Linked DNA regions of Homo sapiens. The protein of the gene in region 1 purifies or fractionates together with the protein of each later gene. This does not show direct contact. Each region holds a gene or a part of one and is shown on either strand. Other genes may lie near its edges.

The links. The genes of interacting proteins can lie anywhere in the genome.
Region 2: the proteins of H1-6 (region 1) and PUM3 purify together in Homo sapiens (affinity purification with mass spectrometry; 2 studies listed by BioGRID and IntAct, with this or other methods). This does not show direct contact.
Region 3: the proteins of H1-6 (region 1) and RSBN1 purify together in Homo sapiens (affinity purification with mass spectrometry; 2 studies listed by BioGRID and IntAct, with this or other methods). This does not show direct contact.

Annotation. Positions count from the first base shown.
Region 1 is NC_000006.12:26,106,896-26,112,706, reverse strand, and holds H1-6 (histone H1t), read left to right. Parts: upstream 1-4,571; 5' UTR 4,572-4,613; coding exon 4,614-5,237; 3' UTR 5,238-5,295; downstream 5,296-5,811.
Region 2 is NC_000009.12:2,827,073-2,834,099, reverse strand, and holds part of PUM3 (pumilio homolog 3), read left to right. Parts: coding exon 1-69; intron 70-667; coding exon 668-743; intron 744-2,755; coding exon 2,756-2,849; intron 2,850-3,071; coding exon 3,072-3,138; intron 3,139-4,151; coding exon 4,152-4,326; intron 4,327-5,321; coding exon 5,322-5,425; intron 5,426-6,948; coding exon 6,949-7,027. UniProt on the Homo sapiens protein: Inhibits the poly(ADP-ribosyl)ation activity of PARP1 and the degradation of PARP1 by CASP3 following genotoxic stress. Binds to double-stranded RNA or DNA without sequence specificity. Involved in development of the eye and of primordial germ cells.
Region 3 is NC_000001.11:113,809,454-113,816,892, forward strand, and holds the start of RSBN1 (lysine-specific demethylase 9), read right to left. Parts: upstream 3,024-7,439; 5' UTR 2,960-3,023; coding exon 2,257-2,959; intron 1-2,256. Other genes in the region: PTPN22 (tyrosine-protein phosphatase non-receptor type 22), read right to left, coding at 5,452-5,516. UniProt on the Homo sapiens protein: Histone demethylase that specifically demethylates dimethylated 'Lys-20' of histone H4 (H4K20me2), thereby modulating chromosome architecture.

The sequences.
Region 1 (5,811 bases):
GTAAAGGGAAAGGGAAGTAGGCATGTACCATTTTAATGCACACCTTGGTTTTCAGAAAATTTAAGAAGAAAGACTTTCTGCTTTTCTCTGACTATTCTGTATTCTGGATTACAACGCAACAGAAACGTCACCTTAAATTCTAATGTTTTTCTCTCCTTGCTTTCAAAAACTGACTCATTAACCTCCACGTGGCTTGGAAAAATTATTTCAGTCATCCAGTAATGAGCTGTTCATAGAAATGTTTTGGACATCAAGTCTGTGTTGTTAGCATTATACATGTTAAGCATTGAATAAAAAACAACATGATGTGGGTAAATTTCTTTACTTACATATAAGTACTTATATACTTATAGCTGAAAAGAGAGGTTGAAATGTCAGGTGGAACAGAAATAAGATTACCTAGATGTTTCTCCTATGGGTGATTTTCAGCTATGCTGATCTTTCTTCTGGGTCAGGTACTCCCAGAACTTCCTAATTAAATGGTGGCCCTGATCTTAGTTCCTCTCTCCTCTTAGACATTTTCCAGGACTACAGAAGATGTGCAGTTTATAAATGAGTAGCAGAAACCTACTGAACAAATTATTCAGGCTCATCTGAACAGAGAGGACACCTTCTCTGCTATACTCTCTCAGTGATTTCCCTGCCTTGGGGTCAATTATTGTCTTGGACATTGATTTAAGCACATAATAATTGTTGTCATTGCTTATGTTTGGATTTCATCTCCCAAAATAGATGGTAAATTCTTTAGTTTAGAGACCAAGTAATACTTAAAAAAAAATTTTGTGTGTGTGTGTGTGTTTTTTCTGTGTCTCTCAGCCCTGTAATAGCATCGTACTTACACTTGTTAGATTTTTAGAGACAACTTTTACAAAACATGGAATTATCTACATACCCTTTCTACAAAACAGACAAATTAAATACTCAGTAGTTGAACCAAAAAAAGCAGTTCAAATAAAATACTTGAAAATGAAGAAATCATTTGAACAGAGTTAAAGTTAATCGTAAAATAATGTCTGTAAAAATTATTGCCAATCAAATATAAAGTTCAAAAATAGTGCTTGAAAAAGGAAGAATCATATGAAAAGGGACTACTCATTTTAAAAATGTTAGATATCAGGAAAAGCCAAGAAGTGAGTATGGTAAGAGTGCTGTCAAGTGAAACCCTGCTAATCTCACTGAACATGTAAAAATCTGTAGATGCCTTTATTTTATTCACTCACACACATATGTAGAAAGAGAAATATATGGTAAACATTAAAAAAACCAAATTAGAATGTAAAATTAATACTTTAAAAAATGGGCTGTATACTTTTCTTATCACCGGAGATAAGAATTTATTATTTTTAAAATAAAGTTATTTTCTCTGTGACTGTTTCCATGACTTTGCTACTTAGAAGTTAGAGATGCCAAAGTTTATCTAAGAAAATGTTTATGGAAATATTATTTCAATAATGAATGTTTAGAAGACTGAATTTCCTGACTGGGCGCAGTGGCTCATGCCTGTAATCCCAGCACTTTGAGAGGCTGAAGAAGGAGGATCGCTTGAGTCCGGGAGTTCAAGAGCATCCTGGGCAACACAGCGAGACCCTGCAGCAAAGTAAAAAGAAAAAAGAATTGAAAAAGGAAGACTGAATTTCCTTTGGGCAAGTCATGTGACATTCCTGTGCCTCAGTTTCTTCATCTATAAAGTTAATTCCTACATTTTTGGGGAAGGGAGAGAAAAACTTAGGATAGTGACTGGCACAGAAGAAGCACTATATACTATATATATGTGGATATCATTTGTTTTTATGGTACCATTTTAGCTATCTAATGCAAAATATGAATCTTTTTTTTCTGGGTCTTAAATTATGGAATGTAAGAATTTTCTAAATTCTCTAATTCTGTGTTAGTTTTAAAGCAATGGAGTAACGTATCTGTCAACTTGTAAATATAAGGATCAACCTGATCCACAATTTGACCCCTAGCCACTAATATTTAATAGTACAACACTCAGAAATTATCAAAGGTCAGAGAAGCCAAACAAATGTAAAAACATACAGGTGCTCAGAAAGATGCACCTGTAATCTCTCTAAGGAGAAATATTTTCCAAACTGAGTGACACGGTGCTTTAGTGAGTTGTGGAATCAATCTCATGATTTCCAACCTAGTGTTCTTTTAAAAATGAACTAGTCCACAGTAGAATATACTAAAGTGCTGGTGCTTAAGATAGTATTGTTTTCTGGAAAAAAAAAAAAAATTTTTTTTTTTTGAGACAGGGTCTCGCTCTTGCCCAGGCTGAAGTGCAGTGGCACAATCATGCTCACTGCAGCCTTGACCTCCTGGGCCCAAGTGATTCTCCCACCTCAGCCTTTTGAGTAACTGGGACCACAGGTACGTGCCACCACACCCGGGTAATTTTTTAATTGTAGAGACAGGGTCTTGCTATGTGCTTAGGCTGGCCTTGTGAACTCCTGGGCTCTAGTGATCCACTAGCCTCAGCCTCCCAAATTTATGGGATTATAGGCATGAGCCACCCTACCTGGCCTGTTCCCTGAATTTTTTTTTCTTTCAGGTGTTTGTGCATATGTGTGTGTGTATGGGTATAACAGAGAGACAGAGAGAAAGAAACTTTTCTATCTCACTTTGCAATCAGAAGTTTGAAGTCTTATCTTTTGGCTTTTGTTTCAGAAATATTTCAAATGTAGACTCTCTCCTTTACCACACTGTCCCCTTAGGCAAGGTCTTTGCCATTCTTCTGAGACTATTGCAACAGACTCCCAACTTCTGACTGTGGGCCCTTCTCAAAAATGATTGTTTATGCAATAAATCTAAACCCAAGACAACTACAACAATACAACAAATTCTCTGCTTAAAAACTTCCAATGTCTGCCGGGCGCGGCGGCTCACGCATGTATTCCCAGCACTTTGGAGGCAGAGGCGGGCAGATCACTTGAGGTGGGGAGTTCGAGACTAGCCTGGCCAACATGATGAAACCCCATCTCTACTAAAAATACAAAAAATTAGCCAGGCATGGTGGTGGGCGCCTATAATCCCAGCTAATTGGGAGGCTGAGGCAGGAGAATTGCCTGAACCTGGGAGGTGGAGGTTGCACTGAGCCAAGATCACACCATTGCACTCCAGCCTGGGCAACAAGAGCAAAACTCTGTCTCAAACCAAACCAAAACAAAACTTCTAATATCTACCAAATGTTTCACACAAGTATTTGGGGATCTTCACAAATGGCCCTTATGGAGTTTTCCTTTGCTGAGACCCTATGCTCTGGCCACACTAAACTCATTCAGCATCCCAGAAAGGCCTCAGCCTTTGTGAGCAAGCTCTTATCTCCAGGCCTCTCACAAAGACCTGTTCCAGTAGAAGCTCAGGGGAGCACACTGGACATTATTCCAACAACCCTTTCCCCACAGCTATGCAGCCAAATCTGCCAGCTCAGTTAATTAATTAAGCAATTCAGAGATGAGGGTCTGCCCAGGCTGGAGTGCAGTAGCTGCGACCTCAAGCTCCTGGGCTCTAAGTGATCCTCTTCAGTCTACCCAGAAGCTGGGACTGCAGGCATGTGCCACCACACCCAGCTAATTTTTTTTTTTTTCAGTAGGGACCAGGCCAACCTAGTCTTGAACTCCTGGCCTCCAGCCTTCCGAAGTGCTGTAATTACAGGCATGAATCACTGCGCCCAGCCAACCCGCCCAGTCTTGTTAGACATGGGGTCTGTAGTTTCTAGTAGGTTCTTGAGTCTAGGGTTCCTACCTCATGTTTTATAGTTAATTTAGGGGAGGGACTGTGTCTGTTTATCTGGGGATGTAGGGGTGGGCAGGGGGATAGAGGGGACTTCAATTAATGAAACCAGAAGCAAAACTCAGTTGAGGACACCGGTCATGAGAGTGGCCTGATTATGGCCAATCTTACATAATGTGTGAGATCTTGATATTACCCCATCCTTGAGAGTCCTCTATAAAGCTACAGGGACTTGGGAGCACCTTTAATTACAGACAACCCATGTTCCTGTGGATTATGATTTATTAGATTGCACATGCCTAAATAAAGACATCCTCTGCAGTCTTTTGACAATTCTATAAGCATCTTCTGACTCCGCAATTAGACAGCTAAGAGATCTGTGTTACTTCCCTCACATATATAAATAATTTTAAATAAAAATCATGGCGTGAATAATTTCTTTCCTCTACCGATTTGAAGCTATCCATTTGGAAGACCACTCTGAAGAGATGAAATAAGTCTTCTGCCAAAGATTACTTATTAATTTACAAGGAAAAGGGGAAGTTTTGTTCCTCTCCGTGAATTTGATTGAAAATCGAGGGCTTTCTCGAATAGTTTTGGCATCCAGGGTCATTTTTCATTAAAAAGAGAAAAGTCATGTCAAATATGAATTTCCGCAGATTATTCAGCACTAGACCCTGGGAGATTCTGTAAAGAGGGGTTTTGTTATACTCAACTTTTCCGGGTAAAACAAACACAAATACTCCTCCTCCAAGGGGCGGGGGCGGTGCCTAGGTGATGCACCAATCACAGCGCGCCCTACCCTATATAAGGCCCCGAGGCCGCCCGGGTGTTTCATGCTTTTCGCTGGTTATTACATCTTGCGTTTCTCTGTTGTTATGTCTGAAACCGTGCCTGCAGCTTCTGCCAGTGCTGGTGTAGCCGCTATGGAGAAACTTCCAACCAAGAAGCGAGGGAGGAAGCCGGCTGGCTTGATAAGTGCAAGTCGCAAAGTGCCGAACCTCTCTGTGTCCAAGTTGATCACCGAGGCCCTTTCAGTGTCACAGGAACGAGTAGGTATGTCTTTGGTTGCGCTCAAGAAGGCATTGGCCGCTGCTGGCTACGACGTAGAGAAGAATAACAGCCGCATCAAACTGTCCCTCAAGAGCTTAGTGAACAAGGGAATCCTGGTGCAAACCAGGGGTACTGGTGCTTCCGGTTCCTTTAAGCTTAGTAAGAAGGTGATTCCTAAATCTACCAGAAGCAAGGCTAAAAAGTCAGTTTCTGCCAAGACCAAGAAGCTGGTTTTATCCAGGGACTCCAAGTCACCAAAGACTGCTAAAACCAATAAGAGAGCCAAGAAGCCGAGAGCGACAACTCCTAAAACTGTTAGGAGCGGGAGAAAGGCTAAAGGAGCCAAGGGTAAGCAACAGCAGAAGAGCCCAGTGAAGGCAAGGGCTTCGAAGTCAAAATTGACCCAACATCATGAAGTTAATGTTAGAAAGGCCACATCTAAGAAGTAAAGAGCTTTCCGGGAGGCCAATTTGGAAAGAACCCAAAGGCTCTTTTAAGAGCCACCCACATTATTTTAAGATGGCGTAACACTGGAAACAAGTTTCTGTGACAGTTATCTATAGGTTTAAGTTGTGATGCAGCTGAGTTGAAAAGGCTTGAGATTGGAGAATTAATTCAGGCCAGGCTTCAAGACCATCCTGGGCAACATAGCCAGACTACCATCTATACCAGGGGTCCTCATTTCCCCGGCCACCGACCGGTAACCGGTCCCTGTCCATGGCACGTTATGAATTGAGCCGCACAGCTGAGGGGTGAGCGAACATTAACCAACTGAGCTCCACCGCCTGTCAGGTTAGCTGCAGCATTAGATAGATTCTCATAAGCTCAAACTGTATTGTGAATGGCACATGCAAGGGATCTAGGTTTCAGGCTCCTTGTGACAATCTAATGCCTGATGATCTGAGGTTGGAGCAGTTTTAGTCCGGAAATCATTGCTCCCAGCCCCTGCACCCCCTGGTCCGTGGTATAATTGTCTTACACAAAACGGTCTCTTGTGTCAAAAAGGTTGGAGACTACTGGTTT
Region 2 (7,027 bases), on another chromosome or scaffold:
ACAACTCAGTGATAAAACCAACTATGACATTGTTGTTCGGGCAAAGCAGATGTGGGAGATTTTAAGAAGGTAATTCTACCTAAAGATGCCTTTGTTAGTCCCTTTGCAACAGTGGAGAAGTCAGTGTACCTTGTAAATAGTGAGATGTCCTAAAATAAATGACATAGCACTTGGGTTATTGAGGGGGTCCTCATGACACCCCATTAGAGACATCAGTACTTGGAAGTCTGCCCGTCACAGAAGTGTGTAGAATCATTATGATGGCATCGGATATGCTTATGAAAATGTATGAGGTTGAAATAAATTTGACATTCTTCCTGAGAGATTTCTGAGAAAATGAAGGACAATTTCTTATCAGCTAGATTTTGAGATACTTCAGTATTTGTTATCTTAGATTTGTTTTATTATTTTTTTTACTTCTGAAGTTCTGGCTGTTAAGATTTGGATTGATACCTAAAATTATACCTTTTGAGATGAGTTTCTGCCTTTGAGAAAATTACTTTTGTCTGGCTGCTCTGGAATAGTAATTTTAATGGCAGAGGTTTGCTGCCTTAGAAAAGAAAATCATGCTGAACTTGGAGAACATATACTGGTACAGTTTTTAATTTTGTGTGTTTAAAATAACTTCTTTATTTCAACTGTGTTTCCTTCCTCTCCTCATTTGTAGAAAAGACTGTGACAAAGAAAAAAGAGTAAAGTTAATGAGTGATTTGCAGAAGTTGATTCAAGGGAAAATTAAAACTGTAAGTAGCATATACTCATTGTTGCAATTTTTAACAGTTGAAGTTGCCTCACTCTCAGGAGTAGCTGACCATTCATGACAGATGATCTTATCATTGTTTCCGGTGTATTTGGCCAAAAGTTTTAAATATCTTCCATAACACTGAACTACATAAAAATTTAAAAGTGAGGGACCTTACTGCTAGGGAGTTTTGAAAAGATTATCAGTCTTTTCAGTCATTTTTTAATAATTCTTAAAATAAGCCAGTGTTTCCTTAAAGTTATCTTGAGAAGTTTATTAGTTCAGTAGTATTTTATAAATGTGTTGTTCTAAACTCCATATAATTTAGTATGTTCTCAATTGCCAACTTCTTTATATTTGTGATGTGAACATATTACTTCATTCTTTTCCTCCATGCTTTTGTAAACATCATGCGAAGATCTTTAACTAAAATATAATCATTTCAGAATTCTAAAGTAGTTTTCATTGTTGCTGCTTAATCCTGTTTTGTAATAAATTTCCTGTGACTCTTGTGTATTTGGATTAATACATAATGGCTTGGAAGACAACAGATTCTCATAGTTTTACGGCACCTGGAGGGGCAGCCTTTGTCAAGTCAGATGCATAGGTCTAACCAGATGCTATATTACAGTTTGAAGGAAAGTAGCAAGTCATCAGCTGCCGCTTTCTTATAAATTCAGCAGGATCTTTTTACGATAGGACTGCCCCCTCAGCTCCGACAATTTATAAATATTTCACTCAGGATTCTTTCTCAACTACCCTGAGGTCACAGCTGTATGACCATGGTGTTAGAAGTGAGTTTGGTATTCAAATCCTGGCTGGGCTGCTTAAAATATGTGTGCCTTTAAACAATAACAATAACTTCTTTATTGATTATTTACTATAGGCTAGGAATTGTGTTAACCAGCACATGCATTGTGTCGTTTACTGTATGTCATCATCCGTGTTGTATATTTGATGTATCTGGGACTCAGGGAAGTAAGATTCTTCCTCGGGGTAATAGAGATAGCGAGTTCCTTCTCATAACCTTACTTCCCTCATCTGTAAAGTGGGAATAGTAACAGCTCATTCTTATTGTTGCTTTGAGTTATAAATAAGAACACTATGTTTAAGGCATTTATGTTGATTATATAATAGGTGCTCAATATATGCACAAAAACAGCCTTATTTTTTTAAGAGATACTTAAGAGATGTCTTACAAATCTTGAAATTTATGACTTTGATGGAAGTATACACTCACCTGATTTGTTGGAATTCAGAAACTTTAGAGTGAGCAACAAATAAGCACTTTTGAAGTAGACTGGTACTGTGGCGTAGTGAAAATAATTTTGCATGATGGATGATTCGTGGAGGGCGCTCTAGAAAATTGGTCAGTGGGTCCTTCCAACAGTCATGAGGAGGAATGGGTTAGAGAATCAGATTCAAAACACAACAACTCTTCTAGAAATATAACTGGATATATGTGCAGGAATTATAATGAAAATGTGACAAATGGATGATTAACTTATTATATAATTGACAGTGTTTATGGACATAGTTGTATTTATTTCTTTAGGAAGACTTTTAGATTGATCTTACAGGTATACTTCTGGTTGCCAAAGCCAAACATTCTTAGATCACTTATATAAAAATCATACAGTAACAGACCTTTTAAACAGAAATATTTCCCTTTTAGGGACGGTAACTTATCAAAGAAATGAGAAGTATAGTCTGTATAATCATCAGATGGTTTGGTTTGCTTTGGTTTTAATTGCAATGAGAGGAGTCTTGCAAAATGGTTAAATTTATCCTTGCCTCAATGTCATTATTGTACCTATCAAATATGGTAGGCCTCAAAACAACAGAATGATGTTTTGTATAATTAAAACAAGTAGTTCTCAGTAATCTAGGTTTGATTTTATTCATGAAGACTACCTTTTTTTCTAACAAGAAATTCCAGAAGAGGTCACAATAAATTAGTGAGAAACATAAGTCTCAAAAGAGAATTAGTCTAACTCAAACTTTTTCCTGCAGATTGCATTTGCACACGATTCAACTCGTGTGATCCAGTGTTACATTCAGTATGGTAATGAAGAACAGAGAAAACAGGCTTTTGAAGAATTGCGAGGTATTTATTACATACTAAAGATTATGTTATCATTTGCAATAAGTCACTTGTTTTCTCTTAAAATACCCAAGACTGTCCTAGAAAACAATTTTTGTTTAGGTTTGTCTTCTCCAGATCCTTTTTTGTTTTTATTTTTTCCTTGCCTGGGACAAATTTCCTCCCTTTGTTTCCAGAGAACTGAAATGAGATCTGAAGTCACTGTAATGTATTTTTGTTTTTCAGATGATTTGGTTGAGTTAAGTAAAGCCAAATATTCGAGAAATATTGTTAAGAAATTTCTCATGTATGGGTAAGTTGTTTTATGTATAAAATACATTTTTTCTTTGTCTTTTGAAGACATGGTTTCCAACTGTGCTCAGATGCGAGATAGGAAGTCTGTGGTCTTTATAAGTAATAGTAATGGCTCTCAGCAGATGCTTGTGTTGTTTTTAGAGAGTATCATCTTAAATACAATTATCGAAATTAATGTAAAATTATGGTACTGCCTTCATTCCTAAAAAGATACATGAGAAATGTCCTGCAAATCTCCTTGAAATTTATGACTTTGATGGAGGTATACCCTCACCTTCTGATTTGTTGGCATTCAAAAGTTTTAAAGACAGAGTGAGCAACAGATAAGCACTTTTGAAGTAGACTGGTATTGTAGCATAGTAAAAATAATTTTACATGATGGATGATTTGTGAATGTTTATCTTGAACCTCTGGAAGAAGAGAAATAGAATAATTAACTTATAATTAGCCACCAGTATTAAGAGGGTGGAGACTGGGGAGGGACAGGTGAGTAAACTGATAGAGGGTCAGTGGGTTAGAAAATGTCAACATGGGAGAATTTCCTAAATTAAGTGGAATTAGTACTTGTCTTGACCAATCTTTTTGAGTGTATTAATGTGCTAGAATATGATAATCAACAACAAAAAGTGTAATATATGCAGTTGACAAAATTTTCAAAAATGTATTCCTAGCTGTAGTTTCCAGCTGTTTAATTCTTTTAGGATATAGTTAAAATACTTGTGATTAAGTCCCATCTTCAAAAGGAATCTTAGAATATGATTTTCTATTTCCTTGAATCTTTTATCTTTTTTCCTGCCCTACTGTTTTTTTCGAGCAGAACAGTTTAATAGGAAATGACATTTATTGAGCATTTACTATGTGCTGGCCACAGCTTCTCAATGCATGCTAGCTCATTTACTCCTCAGAGTGACACAGATTGATGAGTTGGTCTTGGGAGAAGTAAGTTGTGTTTTATTGTCACCCAGCTTTCTCCTTCTATCATTTATTTTTCCATGATTGTGTTGCGTTTAGAAGTAAACCACAGATTGCAGAGATAATCAGAAGTTTTAAAGGCCACGTGAGGAAGATGCTGCGGCATGCGGAAGCATCAGCCATCGTGGAGTACGCATACAATGACAAAGCCATTTTGGAGCAGAGGAACATGCTGACGGAAGAGCTCTATGGGAACACATTTCAGCTTTACAAGGTGACATCTCCAGAAGTCTTTTTCTAGTATTTTTACTTTTCGATATGCTCTTCCTTAACTTCCGGTGCCCTATATATCTTTTGAATGTATTTTTACTGTGGCTGGTTCTTTAAGAGACCATCTTATGCCCTTGATTTTCCCTCATGCTTTATTTTGTTTCTGGTATAGTGAGCAAGTTTCTCTTTCTCCAGAGCATTGGCTTTAAATCCCCTTCAATTCAAACTTTGTTCCTCTCCTGAGTGCTCTGTGTGTAGCACTTCAATACTTCTATTTTTACAGTCATACTGAAGGACAAGACTCCCAATAGTTAGCAAAGTTGTGTGACCACCCCCAACCAGCTCTGGCTGAAGTGTATTGGGCTCTCTGTTGCTAGCTTCTCCTGTGTTTTTTCATGTGCATGCATTGCCCTTCTTCAGATTGTGTCTGGAGATGAAGGGGAACAGAGAGACCTAACCTTGGATAGAGTACAGGGATTGAATCTGAGAATAGTTAGCAGTGGGACTAGCTGGTTAAAGAATCTATTTCAAACCTTGGAACATAAATGCACACATGTGTCTGAAGGGATATGGATTGATTCCCGGGTTGCCTCCATTAGCCAGGTTCAATTCTTGGGTTGAATTTGTTGCTGTACTAATTTTGTTAACAGTTCGTTATATTTAATAGGAATAGCCAACTAATTATAAAACATATGGTGGCAAGAATTTGTGAAGTGACTACTTGATCTCATAATTGGGCAAGAGCTAGGTGCTTGGCAAGTAACTGTTAGCTGGTTAACTTGGTTGGCCTGGCTCTTTAAATGCACTGATAGATACACAGACTGAGAATCAGCTAATCAGGTTACTCCACAAGGATATACAGCAGAGCTTTCATTATGTAAATATGGGAAATCTTAAATTTGTTAAAACTTATTTTAAAATGACTAATTACTTTTCTTTTTCCTGAAGTGAAAAAATTGATTAAATTTAGAGGGGTTTGATTGTTTTGTTTTGTTGCAGTCAGCAGATCACCGAACTCTGGACAAAGTGTTAGAGGTACAGCCAGAAAAATTAGAACTTATTATGGATGAAATGAAACAGATTCTAACTCCAATGGCCCAAAAGTAAGAAAGTTGTTTTTGTTTTGTTCTTAAGAAATGACATTCAAAGGAGGAAGGTTTTCCATAACTGTTGCCCAGAAGAGGTAGCTATTTCCTGCTTACAAGTATTAATCTATTCTAAATAAGAGTGCAAAAGTGTTGGTTTGAAACCATTCTTGGTGCAAAAGGAGATTTCTTTTTCTGATATTGTACCCTATAAAATGATAACTAACATGCATTCGTGATTTATGAGCTTTTTTAAGCAATGAAACATTCTTTCCCCAAATAAAATGTTACATGGAAGCCATGTATACTAAACAGTTTCACAAATATAATCTGTTACTCAAATTTGGTTGTAGGCAAGGTACAGTGGCTCACGCCTATAATTCTAGCACTTTGGGGAACCAAGCTGGGAGAATCACTTGAGGCCAGGAGTTCAAGACCATCTGGGGCAATAGCAAGACCCCATCTCTACGAAAAAATAAGAAAATTAGCCAGGCTTTATGGCATGTGTGTATAGTCTTGGCTACTTGGGAGGCTGAGAGGCAGGAGGCTCACTGGAGCCCAGGAGGTCATGGCTGCAGTGAGCCATGGTTGTGCCACTGCATTCCAGCCTAGGCAACAGAGTGAGACCTTGCTTTAAAAAAATAAAAAAAAATTAAAAAATGGATTGTAAGACTTGGAAGCCTGTGCATGTGCCCTTCATGGCATCTGTCCAGTAGTGGAGTGGCTGAGCATAGCTTTTGGGACCCGACTGCCTGGGTACGACTCCTGGTTCCCCACTCCCCCAACTATTACTAACTGCAATCTTTGGCAACTTAACCTCCCTGTGCCTCAATTACCATATTTGTAAAATTGGGATAATAATAGTACAGACTTCATAGGAATTTTGTGAAGATTAAATGGGTTGGTTGTTCCAAAACACTCAGAACAGTGCTTTGCCCATAAAGGCAGTGTTAGTTTTTGCTGTCTACTTGGGTATCACCTGTGAACTTTAGGTCTTTTATGCCTGACCATCGGCCTCCACTGTACACCTGGATCCACCAAGTGTCACACTAGGGGGTTTGGATTAAGTAGGTGTTGTTGCAATTGCTGACAATGTTTGGTTCATTCAAGTTTTAATTCTGCTAAAATTATTTTGTGAAACAGATGGATTGTGAAGGGTGTTAACAGAAATAAAACAACTATTAAAAAAATACATCCACATGTGGATTTCTAATCATTATGTCCAGTGCTGGGGGAAAAAATGTAGATGTCCTTATTTAATAGAGCAGAGCATATTTCAAATGTTGATTTTATGTTTGCCGATTAAATACTAGAAGTTTATACTCTGGTCTTGGTTGTAGATGGCACTAAATCAATTTTACCATCTAAATTTTTGTTTAAGTTTTAGTATTTCTGAAAAATACAGTCTATTTTATGACAAATTGTATTCAGTAAAACCATTTCACTTGTTTAGATTACTTTAGGACTTTGAGATTACCTGTCTTTGTATGACTGTAGTGCCAGATCTGTTGTGTCTTTTTGCTTTTTTTTTCTGTTTTCAGGGAAGCTGTGATTAAGCACTCATTGGTGCATAAAGTATTCTTGGACTTTTTTACCTATGCACCCCCCAAACTCAGATCA
Region 3 (7,439 bases), on another chromosome or scaffold:
AAAAGATATCAGTCAAACTATGTGCAAAAGCCTGGATTAAACAAAGTTAAACCAGTTTATTTTCTGTAGGGTTTTCAAAACTTTTAAAATGCCAGTTTGCCAATTCATGTTACATATGTAGAAGGCTACAGTACACAGTTTTTCTCAAATGTATTTGACCAAAAAATTCTTTTTCACCCAAAATATAGTTTGGGTATATAATCCAACAATCTCTCAGCCAAAAGTTAAAATGTTTAAATGGGCTTATCTTAACCCACTTCTCTTCTTCACATGTTGGCAAACTACAGATATTTAGAGTGGTGTTGTCCAGTGTGGTAGCCACTAGCCATATGTGACTAATTATAAATTAATTAGAATTAAATAAAATCAAAATTTCAGTTCCTCAATCATGCCACATTTCAAGTCTGTTCAGGAACCACATACGGCTACCATATTGGTCAGCACAAATACAGAAAATTTCCATCATCTGAGAAAGTTCTATCAGTCAGCATTAGGTCAGAAGTGTGTTTTTTAAAGAACATGGGGCCTGTGCAATCTTCAGAGAAAGATTGTAAATTATTACACATGTTATTGCCACTATCCCCCATAAAACGGGGCCAGGTCAGAGATCCTCGATGATATAAAGCCACTGTAATGTCAAAGCACAGGGAAAAGGTAAACAAAGGAGTGGAAAAAATGAATAGCAGGAAGAGAAAGCAACATCATGAAGCCTGGAGATGAAGCTTGAAGCAGGATTCAGGAGCCTGGGTTCTACTGCCTGTTATGCCAATATTCACCTTTTTAAAAAATATTTAATTTTTTTGCACTTCATGCGAATTAACTGTGATTTGATTGAACAGGCCTCTTTACTACTTTGGGCCTCAGTTTCCTTTTCTACAATACAAATTTAAGCCAGAGGATCACTAATTCCCTCTAGTTCTGTACAGTTAAAACACACACACACACACACACACACACACACAAGAAATGAGAAAGTAGGGAATAAAAGTAAAAATAAAAAGAGAGCAAGATCATTGCATATTGGTGGTGAAAACTGGCAGTCCTGTCATCTTGCCACAAGTTCTACTCCCAAGATTTGGATGCCACCAAATGAATAAAAATTTAATGCTATTCAATAAATACTTATTGAGCAATTATTTGCAACGAACTACAGTATTCGGAAATAGCACCACCAAAAAAAATGATTAGCCTTAAGACTCAATACGTGGAAAGAATGCAAGACTCACAAAACTTTAGGTTGAAAGATTGTCTCATTAACATGTAATAACCTAACTGGTCCAGTACTAAGAAACAAGTATTTCAAATATTCCTGAGGAAAAACAACTAGTAAATTATATAAAATAATATATAAAGTACAAACATACGGCATAATCAAAAGCATCACATTTCTTCCACAAAGAATATAAATAAATGCTACAGGTACTTGGGAACAGGAAGACATCAGTTCTGGCCAATCTAATTTTTCTAGAATCCACATTTAATTGGATACTCTGACATTTTCTAGTAAAATATTCTTGAGGGCTATTGGAATTAACAGATCCACAAAGTGTGCTAGACAGAATCAAATGCAACTGAAATTCCGGCCTCTACTATCTACTGCACAAATTCCCACTTTTCAGAGGCACTGTTGGTCCTATTTCCTAGTATCAAAGGGTAGAGAAAACCTTCCACATGCCTATTCTAAGAATTTAAATAGCTAATATGAAAACTTTAAAATGATTTTTACCTCTAGATTAAAAAGAACCAAGATAAACTGCGTCTGATATTTTACCTTGCAGAAGCTAAGTCAACCAGTGAGTCGTGTAACCTTTATATGAATTCCCTCCTGAAAGACTGGAACCATACCCCTGACTATTCTGGAGCAAGGGAGAGCAGATAACTAAAGCTCTCCAGCAAGCAAAACAAGGAGAAGGGATTTTAGGAACATGCCTTTTCTTTGGAAAGGCATTTTTTAGTACCCCACCTACTAATCTAACGCGGCGCGGAAACCTTGCAGAATTTGAAAACAAATGCTGAGAGGCTCCGGGGGACCGGTAAAGGGATTAGCAACTGACAGCTCGGCCTCGGAGCGAGAAGCCTCAAGTAGTTAGATCAAACCGTGTCAACGATCTGAAATCCAGGGTCCACCCCAGTGAGCTTAGAGAAGTACAGCAGCAGAAGGTAAGCAGGGGTTTGGCGTCTTTCAGTCCTAAAGATGCGGGATATCGGAACTGAGAGAGACCTAGAACCCAAGCCGGGCAGTTTGCCTGCTCTCACCTCTCTTGGGGGCTTTGATCAGAGGCACCCCTCCAGTCCTCTCGCCGTTTTCCTGCTTGTCCTTGTGCTTGAGATCGGTTCCGCAGGAGCTGGGATCACCATCGGGGCCGCGGTGGTGATGGTGCTTGTGCCGCTCCTTGTGGCCCTTATGCTTGGGCCCGGCCGCGCTCACCGTCAGAGGCGAGAAGGTGAAGAGGGCCGAGGTGCTTGGGGCCGGGAGAGGGGCAGCGACAGCGGGCCCGGCGGGTGCCAGCGAAGGTGGCGGCGGAGGCGGCAGGAGAAGAGGCTCAACAGGGCCTGGGACAGTTGGGGCTGCATTCGTTGGCGGCAGCGGCCCAGGATGTTGGCGGCTGCGACGCCGCCGGTGAGGGGGAGCGAGAGGGGGCTCCTGGCTCGGCCGCCCCCGCTTCTCCTGAGACCCCCCACTGCTAGATCGGCGCTGCCGTTTAACTCCCCGCGGGGAGACCCCAGCATGAGGTTTCTCCTTCCCCTCTTTGTCCGGCTCCTCCTGCGCCGCCACCGCCCGTACTACGCGCACCGCTCCGACCTGCGCAGCCATTTCACCCACAAACACACATTTAAATGGCCCGACCGCCCCCCCGTCCGCGCATCGCGCAAGCGCCGCCCGCGCACTGCCCGCTGGGCATTGGAGTCTCTCCTCCGCCCTCCACTTGTCGGCCGTTCTTCGTCCAGAGATGAACATGCCGGAAGCGGCCGTTCCCAGCTTTTCTCCGCAGGCCTCTCCAACCGAGCTTCTATTGTAAAGCACCCTATGCCGCGCAAAGCGTCATGGGAGCTGTAGTTCCGCCGCGCCCCCGCCGCGTCCCCGGCTCTGAGTGGAGGAGTGGAAAGGGAGCGTGCGCGAAGTCACGCTTCTGGCTGCGACGCAACCGCCGCTGGGCGGTGAGTTGCCGCCAACCGCCCTAACGGCCGAAACAATGTTAATGGCTTTCAGAGTCTGGCGGCGCGTTCCCATTATCATCTTCCTGTGACCCTTCCTCATTTTACACGGAGGAGGTGGTCTCCACAGTGATTTTAAATTTAATATTTCTCTCATAACCTTTGTGAGATAAAAGAATCTTCATCCTTTTAACTTTGACGAGGGATGAAATGAAGGTGAAAAGAGGATTTAGTAATATGTAAAATAAGGGTGGTTTTGCTGTAAAAATATGATAGGGCCGCAATTCAGAAATGTTTTCAAGCATCTGGGGCATTGCTATGGTTACAACTACAGGCCTACGAAGTCAGGTGCGAGAACTGCTTGGAGTCCTGGTGAGGACGGCCCCTCCTCGCCATCCGGCCACATCCCCTCTAATGCCTGGAAATGTCCAGCATTTATTTTGAATATATCCCTACAGTTGCGAAAAATTGTAGATGGAAAACCACGTTTAAGATTTTTTATAAGTTTTTTTTTTTCAAATCTTAAGGATAAGATTGCATAAATTTGAAAAGTGTGCCTACCGGAGAACACACCAAAAATCATCACTGCTCACTACGGATAGTTGTTGCTCAGAAATTCATTTAGAATTTCATCCTCGCTTTAGCTTTTACCTGGGGTTCTTTTAAGTATTTATTTAGAGACGGGCGGGGCGGGGCTCGGTGTCTCAGGCCGGTAATCCCAGAGCTTTGGGAGGCCGAGGCGGGAGGATTGCATGAGGCCAGGAGTTCCAGATCAGCGTTGGTAACATAGTGAGCCTCTGTCCCTACAAAAGTATTTTTTAAATTATCTGGGTGTCGTGACACGCGCCTGTAGTCCCAGGTACTCGTGAGGCTAAGGTGGGAGGAGTGGTCGCACCACTGCACTCTGGCCTGGGTGACAGATCTAGACCCTGACTCTTAAAAAAAAGAGACAAGGTCTCGCTCTGTTGACCAGGCTGGCCTCCAACTCCTGGGCTCAAGGAATGAGTAGCTGGGTCTACAGATGCACTCATGGTGCCCTAAGTAACTCATGGTTACCTAGAATTCTTTTAGTATATTTGTTTATTGATAAAGACATTTGGAAGTAATTGATTACAATGATATATACTCAGCAGATAAAATTACTGTGGTTTGATTTCACTAGTTTCTGGAGAAGTATTACCTAAACACTACTGCAATGAAGTCAGTTTAACAACCAAAAAGTTTATTGAGTGTCTGTTGGATACATTGTACTACAAGAGACAGATAATAATACTTCATTCAATTTGCCCTATTGGACTTCCAAATGAAAAATACTGAAGAACAAATGATGTTTAAACAATACTACATGTTTCTAAAAGTTATAAATAAAGTTATTTAAATAAAAATATTTTTAATGCATTAGGGGAAGTCAGGTGGATTCTTTGTAAAAACAATTACCTGCCAATTTATTTACTACATAAAATTAGAGTTGAACTAGATTTTCTTATGGCAGATCCATATTCATATAGAAATTCATTTTAAACTAGTATTTCTGATTGGTTAGATAAAAATTGCACATGATCTGAAAGATCCTGTATAAACATATACAATTTATATCTTTTGCTACCAAAAGATAGCTATTATATTTCATTGATTACTTTTCTAGAATTGGTAATTTAATGACTTTGGTTAAAACTTATCAGGATTTCAGTTGAATTCCTTGTTACATTCAAATAATTGTCATTATTTGCACATTTTATTCTAATAAATATAATTTCTCATTTTCTTAATATTCCAGTTTTCCACAACATTTGGGAAGATTTACAAGGTATACTCCATTTAGGCAAAAATAACTGTCAGGGAATAGTCATTGTCAAGAGCAGTTTGTATTGCAACCCACAAAGTAAGTTTTTTTTTTAACTTTTTATAGTATATTCTGGCAATGTAGAAATTAGTTGAGATCCAAATCTTACAAACCTTTTGAAGTTTATGTTTATGTAGAAAAGTAAAAGAAAATAAAAATAACTGGCAAAAATGAAAAATAAATCCATTCTAAAAGTGTTTCTCATATAGCATTCTGTACATAAGCTCAAGTGACAAACTTTTATTTGCAGTTTTCAACTCAATGCAAATGATATGAAAATGCAAAACTGGCACTTATTGGCATTTTGCTTTTCTTTTAAAAGCTATTAACACATTAGCATATCTTCATATTTGATATTATGCATATAGAGCACTTATTTTAACTAGCAGTATTCTAGTAGTTTTATTTGCAGGTGTACTTGCAGCCCATATTATTATAAATCTGGAGTTTTATTAAATATTCCAAGTTGGTGGTGGATTCCTTGGTCCTTTGGGTTTTGAAAAACGGTTTGCAAAACCTGGGAACAAAAATAAAGTTGAATGAAAAGAAAGATGTTTTAAGTATAGAAATGAATACTTGGATTTTAGAGTATATTATAATATATGCAAATACATGGTCTTTTTTTAAATGTTAGGCAGCATCTTGACCAGTTTAGTAATAGATTATAAAGGGATTGTAGTAATCTAAAGCTTAAATGATAACAGAATACTAATAACACTTTAAATTTGAAGAGCACTTACAAATTTAATAATGGTAATAATAGAATGTAGGACCCTGGTTATATATAGGCTTTGATAATTTAGTATATAATATCATTTGTCTATGACTTTTTGTCATCCACTCCATCCCATTAAATGAAGTCAGGAAATTTTAATTTCACAAAAATATAGCACCGTTACTTATAACATTATTGTATTACATCTAGTTATACCTCTATGTCGGTCCAGAAATCCTTCAATTTACCAAGAGATTATGTTTGAAAATCTTAGAAAAAATAAACAATCCTGAAAAACTAAGTAGGTAAGTAAACATTATTATTTATCTTTCTTCTTCAAACTTGTTCCCCCTACCCCACCCCAAAGAAGGAGGATGAGAAAATTTTTCACAACTAATGAAGGCTATTTCTGGATGCTTTCAAAAGATGTGCATGTTGATGATGTTGGTTCTTTATCATTTCAGCAACATGTGACTTTATGACTTTTCTTTTTGATGGTAGTGTCTTTTTGTTTGTTTGTTTTTTGTCTGAGACAGAGTCTTGCTCTGTCGCCCAGGCTGGAGTGCAGTGGCGCGATCTCGGCCCACTGCAACCTCCGCCTCCCGGGTTCAAGCGATTCTCCTGCCTCAGCCTCCTGAGTAGCTGGGATTACAGGCGCCAGCCAACATGCCTGGGTAATTTTTGTATTTTTAGTAGAGATGGGGTTTCACCCTGTTGGCCAGGCTGGTCTCAAACTCCTGACCTCAAGTGATCCACCCACCTTGGCCTTCCAAAGTCTGGGGATTACAGGTGTGAGCCACTGAGCCAGGCCTAATGGCAGTGTATTTTTAAGTTATCTTACACTTAGCAACTTTAGGGACTTAAAGTAAGAAATGAAATGTTTGAAGTATAGGGGAATAATAAAATGAAAAACTCAAAGATATACCTAAACCTTTAATTTCATCATCATACAAATTGTATTATCTACCTTAAAAAACTGATGTAAGGATCAAATGAGATATTTGTGTAAAAAGCGAATGGGGCAGGGTGCAGTGGCTCATGCCTTTGAATAATCCCACACTTTGGGAGGCCAAGGCAGGTGGATCGCTTGAGCCGAGGAGTTCAAGACCAGCCTGGGCAACATAGTGAAACCTTGTCTCTACAAAAAAACACAAAAAAATTAGCCGGGCATGGTGGCTTGCACCTCTGGTCCCAGATACTCAGGAGGCTGAGGTGGGCAAATCATTTGAGCCCAGGGAGGTCAAGGCTGCAGAGGGGAAAAAAAAAAAGAATTGAAAAAAAAAAACAGCATCCAGCACAATGCCTGGCACATAGTAAGTACTCAAATGTTCCTCAGGCCAGTCATGGTGGCTCAAACCTATAATCCGAGCACTTTTGGAGGTGAGTATGGAGGATAGCTTGGGGCCAGGAATTCAAGCCTATGGTAACTACTCAAATGTTGCTTAAATTTCAACCCAGAAGCCAGGCGTGGTGGCTCACACCTGTAATCCCAGTACTTTGGGAGGCTGAGGTGAGTGGATCACCTGAGGTCAGGAGTTCAAGACCAGCCTGGCCAACATGATGAAACCCTGTCTCTACTAAAAATACAAAAATTAGCTGGGCATGGTGGCGGGTGCCTGTAATGCCAGCTACAGGGGAGGCTGAGGCAGGAGAATCGCTTGAACCCAGGAGGCTGAGGTTACAGTGAGCTGAGATCGTGCCACTGCACTCCAGCCTGGGTGACAG